2 linked regions of the Homo sapiens genome follow. The protein of the gene in region 1 interacts with the protein of each later gene in a biochemical or structural test. Each region holds a gene or a part of one and is shown on either strand. Other genes may lie near its edges.

Region 1 (3,750 bases):
CAAACATGCCATACTGCCAATGAAAACTCATCAACATATACGACACTCAAGAGGCCTCCTTTCTATAAACACATTTAATAAGAAAACATCCTTATTTTTAGGAGACATGTATTGACATAACTATTTAAGCAGTTTAGCAAAAAAGTAAAATATTACTTATTCATTAAAAAAAGGTCCTAATCCACTAATTCATTTATACATCATATAAATAATCCCTATTGTGAAACTAATCTTTTATGGTAACATTTACCCACCGTAAATTTTTTTAAAAATCATACTTTGAGGAAGAAATTTTAGAAAGGAATTTGAGTAGTGACAATGTTTATGTATATTTCATTCCTAACTTATCCTATATAGTCTAACAAATTTGTGAATAAATATAATGCTAAATCTTATTTTTCGTTTCATAACATCAGTATTTCTGCTGTTATGAACTCTGGGTAATCAGAATCAAAGTTTGTATCTACCAATCAATATCATTGCTCTCTTAATTCAACAAATTCTTATTTTTTGGTGTTGTCTGTTGTTGCTGTTTTGGTTTTTTGAGACAGGGCCTCACTTTGTCACCCAGGCTGGAGTGTAGTGGTATGATCACAGCTCTATGCAGCCTTGACCTCCCAGGCTCAAACGATCCTCCTGCCTCAGCCCTCCAAGTAGCTGGGACCATGGGCACATGGCATGATGCCTGGCTAACCTGACTTTTTTTTTTTTTTTGGTAGAGATGGGGGTCTCACTATGTTGCCCAGGCTGGTCTCAAACTCCTGGGCTCTAGTGATCCTCCCACCTCAGCCTCCCAAGTAGTTGGGACCATAGGCACATGGCACCATTCCTGGCTTTTTTTTTTTTTTTTTTTGGTAGAGATATAGTCTTACTATATTGCCCAGGCTGGTCCCAAACTGGGATTACAGGAAACAGCCCCTGCGCTGGCCGACAAATACTTTTTCAATGCCTACTGCATGCCAGGCACACATCTGACAGAGAAGTACAGCAGTGAATATATGACAGGCAAGGCCCGTGCCTTCAATGTTTTATGTATGAGGTTTTCTATAATTAAGGTTCCTCTTCCCAACCCATCCCTATCTGCTAGTAAAATCTATTTACTAAAATAGAATCAGGGCCAGAATAACACCGAGGGCCGGGCGTGGTGGCTCACGCCTGTAATCCCAACAGTTTGGGAGGCCGAGGAGGGCAGATCACCTGCGGTCAGGAGTTTGAGGCCAGCCTGGCCAACATGGAGAAATCCCATCTCTACTAAAAATACAAAATTAGCTGGCTGTTGTGGCACATGCCTGTAATCCCAGCTACTTGGGAGGCTGGGGCAGGAGAATTGCTTGAAGCCGGGAGGCAGAGGTTGCCATGAGCCAACATCACACCACTGCAGTCTAGCCTGGGCAACGGGCGAAACTCCATCTCAAAAAAAAAAAAAAAAAAGGAATAACATCAAAACTTGTAACACTACAAAATTCAGCATAAAAATTTCATAGAGTATTACTATTTTACAATGTTTTCTGTACTTACTGTGTAATAAGGATTTTTTCCAAGTCATTTTTCTTTAAAAACATGCTATTAAATATGTGTACAGAATTCTACCACCACTATATAAGATCCATTTTCCTTTTTAAAAAAAATCAAGTTATCACTAATCCAGGATCTTTACATTTTTAACCTTCTCATGTCATTTTAAACATACCATTTATTTTAGAATGAGAAGATTTTTAGGCTTAATACCTATTATCAAACCATATTTTAAAGGATTGTATCAATTTATACTGCCATCAGCAATCTGAGATGGCCATTTCATTGCCTCCTCAGGATGAACATTTTCCTTTATTGATGCTGTTTAAATTTCATATATAACATCTGGTTTAATTCACTTTTCTAAATGCTTTTGGGGTGACAACTTTCCATGGATATAACCTGTATGTCCTTCCTCTTTTGTGAAATGTCTGTTCTTATCCTTTAGCCAGTTATGTACTTAATGTTTACTTTCCTCTTGCCACGGTGTTTCTTAGTTTTCCCCATATAATTTTTGCTTGTTACTTTTTTCTTTCATTTCAGTGTTCATTAGAGATGAAACTAAGCTACCTGGGCCGGGCACAGTGGCTCGGCCCACTGTAATGTATGGCTGGCCTGTAATCCCAGCACTTTGGGAGGCTGAGGCGGGCGGATCACCTGAGGTCGAGACCAGCCTGGCCAACATGGTGAACCCATCTCTAATAAAAATACAAGAATTAGCCGGGCTTGGTGGCACGCACCTGTAATCCCAGCTACTCGGGAGGCTGAGGCAGGTGAATTGCTTGAACCTGGGAGGCGGAGGTTGCAGTGAGCCACTGCACTCCAGCCTGGGCGACAGAGTGAGACTCTGTCTCAAAAAAAAAAAAAAAAAAACCCAAACCAAAACCAAACAAACAAAACTAAGCTGCCTAAACAATGCATATACTTCTAGCTACCTCCTTTTTCTTGAGGCCATGCACCTAAAATTCTGAAAAACTGATTTACCCTCATCTTCTCTATTTACTTACTACTCAGGTATTCCTTTATTCTCCTAGAAACTGGCTTCTCCCTAGCAGGATGCTACAACTGTGTCCACAAGTGGTCTGGATAGCATATTTATTCTCCTGGGTACTTTCAGCTACCTGAAGTCACCCCTCTGGGCCAAGACAACTAATACTGTGACAACACTTTGCTGGATACATTTTCCTCCCCTGGCATCTGTGGTACTCTTGTTTTCCCCTGGTTCTTGAACATTCTCTCAGTCACTTTCTAGTTTTCATTTTCCTTAATTTGACTTTTGATGTTATCCTAATCTCCAACATTAACTATATTTTCCGTAGGAAAACTAACCCATTCATTATCATGTTATCTATCATCCTGATACAGTAACTTCCAAGGCCCTTAAGCTCATTGCTGAACCCTGGACTGGTTTAACTAATTATCTAACTGGGTGTAGCAAGTATACCTCAAGAAAAGCTGAATATATGTAAGGTCAGTCACATAAAACTATTCCCCTATAATAATTTTATAACATCTCTATAACTCACCTACTATACAATTCACCTATTTGAAAAGCACGATTTAATGGTTTCTGTCTAGTATGTCTACAGAGTTGTACAATCAATACCACAATCAATTTTAGAGTATTTTTTCACCCTACAATGAAACGCAGTACCAGTTAGCAACCATTCCTCAATCCCCCCCACCTCCCCTCCAGCAGTAGGGAACCACTAACCTACTTTCGGTCTCTATGGATTTGTCTATTCTTGACATTTCATATAAAGGGAATCGTACACTATGTCACCTTTTACGACTGACTTTGTTCACTTAATATAATGTTTCCAAGGTTCATCTATGTTGTAGCAAGTATCACTACTTCATTTCTTTCTTTTCTTTAGAAAACAATATCATGTAATTCATTTCTTTTTATTGCCAAATAATATTCCGTTATATGGGTCCACATTTTGTTTTTCTATTTATCAGCTGATAGACATTTGGGCTGTTTCTACTTTTTGGCTGTTATGAATAATAAATGCTGCTGTGAACACTCGTGTTCGAGTTTTTCTGGACATGTGTTTCAGTTTTCTTGGTTAGGTTCCTAGGATGGAAGTGCAGGGTCCTATGGTAACTATGCTTAACCTTTTGAGGACTGCCAGGCTCTTCTCCAAACACCCGCACCATTTACCTTCTTGCCAGTAGTGCATGGGAGTTCTAATTTCTCTACTTCCTCATTGACATTTGTTATTATCTTTTTGA
Region 2 (3,750 bases), on another chromosome or scaffold:
TTGCTGATTTCCTGCGGTTACCTCTTCTGCGGTCCTAATCCTTTGTTCTCTCTCCCCCTGCAGACTGCCAAGCAACTCATCAAAAGGTCAGTGTCTTCCTAGAGGCTATGATCCAAGCACCTAGTTCCCACCAGGACCTCTGTCCAGGAAGCCTCATCCTGGGCATTAGGCCTGCTGGGAGGGTCTCACTCTAGGCTGGCTTCCCTGACCCTTTGCATCCCTGACTTTTTGGACCACTCCTTGTGCTTGAGGTTGGAGAGGAAATACTCCATCCCTCCAGGGGAGCCTCTGGGTAGAAGGCCTGGGCGTGGCAAAGCATGTGCCCTCTCTTCCCTGCACTGAGCCCCAGAGACCTCATCCTGCCTCTCTTTCTGTCTCCCCTGCAGCATTGTGGAAGCTTCCAAGGGCTGCCAGCTGGGGAAGACAGAGCAGGGCTTTGAGAACATGGACTTCTTTACTTTGGATTTAGAGCACATAGCAGACGCCCTGAGAGCCATTGACTTTGGGACAGGTAAAGGAGGTGGTGATGCCACTTGTCTATTTGCCTGCCTGACCCCTGGAAACCAGCATCCCTCCAACTGAGCCCGATGGGGAGGCAGATACACTAATAAAGATCCCCAAATATCAATCAAACTCATATAGCCAACTTCTGGCCGGCTGTGGTGGCTCATGCCTGTAATCCCAGCACTTTGGGAGGCCAAGGTGGGCGGATCACTTGAGGTCAGGAGTTTGAGACCAGCCTGACCAACGTGGTGAAACCTCATCTCTACTAAAAATACAAAAATTAGCCAGGCGTGATGGCATGTGCCTGTAATTCCAGCTACTTGGGAAGCTGAGGCAGGAGAATCACTTGAATCCAGGAGGTAGAGGTTGCAGTGAGCCGAGATTGTGCCACTGCACTCCAGCCTGGGCAAAAGAGCCAGCCAAACTCCATCTCAAAAAAAAAAAAAAAAAAATTCATATAGTCGATTTCTAGATGAGCCCAGAGCCTAGCACAGTGCCTGGTGCAGAATTCCTGCTTCATAAATTACATATGGATCCATGGCAGGGAGGCCTCTTGGGGCAGTAGAAATAATATGCCCTCTGGAATCAGACAGTCCTGAGTTTAAATCCTGGTTCTGTCATTTGTTTATCTGTGTGACCTTTGGCAAGCCCCCTTCTGCCTGAGTTTTATTTTCTAATTTAAAAAGTCAGGTTAGAAGTGAGCCCTCTAATAATGACCAACTCATGGTGCTGTTGCAAAAAATCAGATATCAATGCAGAAAGGTCCTGTAGAGCCCTAAAGATGTACTAGTTATTGCCTAAAGGTAGTCTTAGCTTCAGTTTCTTAATGCTATCACCTATGATACCCAGGCACCTTAATTGATCAACATCATGTCCTCATTTCTGTTTATAATTACTCTTCCATAGAGTGCCTATAATAATTGTAACAATGCAACCGTAACAATAATAAGGGTGAAAATAACAAAGGAAATGAAGAAACTGAATGGAAGCAAATATGTTAATTTGCTAAAGGTCACACAGCTAAAAGGGAAACACAGCTAAAAGGCAACAGAGAAAGAGAGGGCAGATCCCACATTGCTGACTGTTGCGTTGGTCTGAGAGGTGGTGCTCCAATGACCAGCTGAGGTTGGGGGACAAGGGGATGATGAAGGAACAAGGAAGAACTGTAAATGGCTGGCGTGAGAAAGAGAAGAGCTTCTTGGCACCTCCTGTGTCGCTCTCCTACAAACCTTCAGTAGCTGGTGCTAAGTCTGTTTTCAGAGCCCCAGATATACCCCATTCATAGGTAAGGACAAAATACATCCCAAAGCAGAGACACCAATGGCCTTGGGGACATCCACTGCTGTAGTGAGCTGCTCCACTGTCAGCTTCCCTAAGCTAAGATATTCAAGAGTGGGTCAGCCAGGCACAGTGACTCACGTCTGTAATCTCAGCACTTTGGGGGTCCAAGGCAGGTGGATCACCTGAGGTCAGGAGTTCCAGACCAGCCTGACCAACACGGAGAAACCCCGTCTCTACTAAAAATACAAAATTAGCTGGGCATGGTGGTGCATGCCTGTAATCCCAGCTAACTCGGGAGGCTGAAGCAGCAGAATTGCTTGAATCCGGGAGGAGGAGGTTGCAGTGAGCTGTGATCACGCCATTGCACTCCAGCCTGGGCAACAGGAGTGAAACTCCATCTCAAAAAAAAAAAAAAAAGAAAGAAATAGATATTCAAGAGTGGGTCATACGGTGTGAACATAACATTGTGAAGTCCTGCACTGGCCTTCCTAATCTCCCTGAGCCTCAGTTTCTCCACAAGTAAAATGAGGAGAGTACCAACAGTCACCAGTTACTGAATATTCTGTATGTCCTAGGCGCTAAGCCCTTAACATAAGTTTTATCATTTAACACAACTTCATGGGATAGGTTCTGTTACCATCTCTATTTTGTAGTTGAGGGAACTTAAAGCTCAGAGAGGGTAAGCCACTTGTTCAAGGCCACACAGCTGGCAAGTAGCCTGTGCAGATTCTACTGAGGGCCATTTGGCTTGCAAAACTCTTGTGAGGATTTTATAAGACGATGCAGATTCAACACTGAGCACACTACTTGGCACATAGTAAGTACTCAGCAACTGCTATTAAATGTAGTCATTGTGACAATGATTAAACAACAGAACTCCCTGGGTTATACTCTGATATCAGTTACTTGGCTGGAATTTTGGTTGTCATTTTGGAGATACTATTTTTTTTTTTTTTTTTTGAGACGGAGTTTTGCTCTTGTCGCCCAGGTTGGAGTGCAATGGTGTGATCTCAGCTCACTGCAACGTTTGCCTCCTGGGTTCAAGAGATTCTCCTGCCTCAGCCTCCCAAGTAGCTGGGATTACAGGTGCATGCCACCACACCCAGCTAATTTTTTGTATTTTTAGTAGAGACAGGGTTTTACCATGTTGGCCAGGCAGGTCTTGAACTCCTGACCTCAGGTGATCTGACCGCCTCAGCCTCCCAAAGTGCTGGGATTACAGGTGTGAGCGACCAAGCCTGGCCTGAAGATACTCTTGACAAATGTTCTGATTCTGTGGTGACCCCTTCAGGGCCCCAAAAGGTTAAGGAGGTAGCTTGGGAGAGGAGCGGGGAAGGGAGATGTTCCCTGTTAAAGCTTGACGGTGACATCTCAGGATAAAAAAGTGGGGACATGAGTTGCAGCTCAGTCACTGTCCCTCTGGTGCTCAGCTTCAGGGAGCAGAGGTGGCTCCAGAAGTGCTTCCCCATCATGTCCACCCCTCCCCTCCACAGGCTAAGGAATGAGGAAAATGGGACAGTGGCTGCTGAACAAGCAGATCTCATAGGCTAAGTAGCTTCCTTCAAGACAAGGACTCTGATCCCTGAGGATCGAGGAGGTTTTTCCTCCTCAGGCAATGTTTATCTGCCTACCCGAGAGATGTGCAGAAGCACAGAGTGCGCTTCCTCAGAGTCCCCTCTCTGGTCACAGGCGAGCAGGTGATAGAAGCTGCTGTTGCTGGAGCAAGGAAGTGACTTGAGCCCAGCTCCCTGGGACGGAGTGCGGGGGATTGCAGGAGCAGGGCCTCTGTGCAGCGTGGGTCTGGCAAGCCCATCCCCTCCCAGACCACTGCCGCCGCTGTGTGGCCGTTTGACCCGACTGGGCACAGGAAGGGGTTTAGACCGTGCTCTCTCTTGCCTGGTTCCTCTTCAAGTAGCTCCTCAAGGAACCGGCCCCATCCTAACACAAATGTTTTTTTGTCACAGA

The links. Proteins that work in one complex are often made in the same cells at the same time.
Region 2: the proteins of UBE2G1 (region 1) and TRIM63 form a complex in vitro, tested with the Homo sapiens proteins (one study listed by BioGRID).

The regions. Positions count from the first base shown.
Region 1 is NC_000017.11:4,289,946-4,293,695, forward strand, and holds part of UBE2G1 (ubiquitin-conjugating enzyme E2 G1), read right to left. Parts: intron 1-3,750. UniProt on the Homo sapiens protein: Accepts ubiquitin from the E1 complex and catalyzes its covalent attachment to other proteins. In vitro catalyzes 'Lys-48'-, as well as 'Lys-63'-linked polyubiquitination. May be involved in degradation of muscle-specific proteins.
Region 2 is NC_000001.11:26,053,964-26,057,713, reverse strand, and holds part of TRIM63 (E3 ubiquitin-protein ligase TRIM63), read left to right. Parts: intron 1-63; coding exon 64-86; intron 87-386; coding exon 387-511; intron 512-3,749; coding exon 3,750-3,750. UniProt on the Homo sapiens protein: E3 ubiquitin ligase. Mediates the ubiquitination and subsequent proteasomal degradation of CKM, GMEB1 and HIBADH.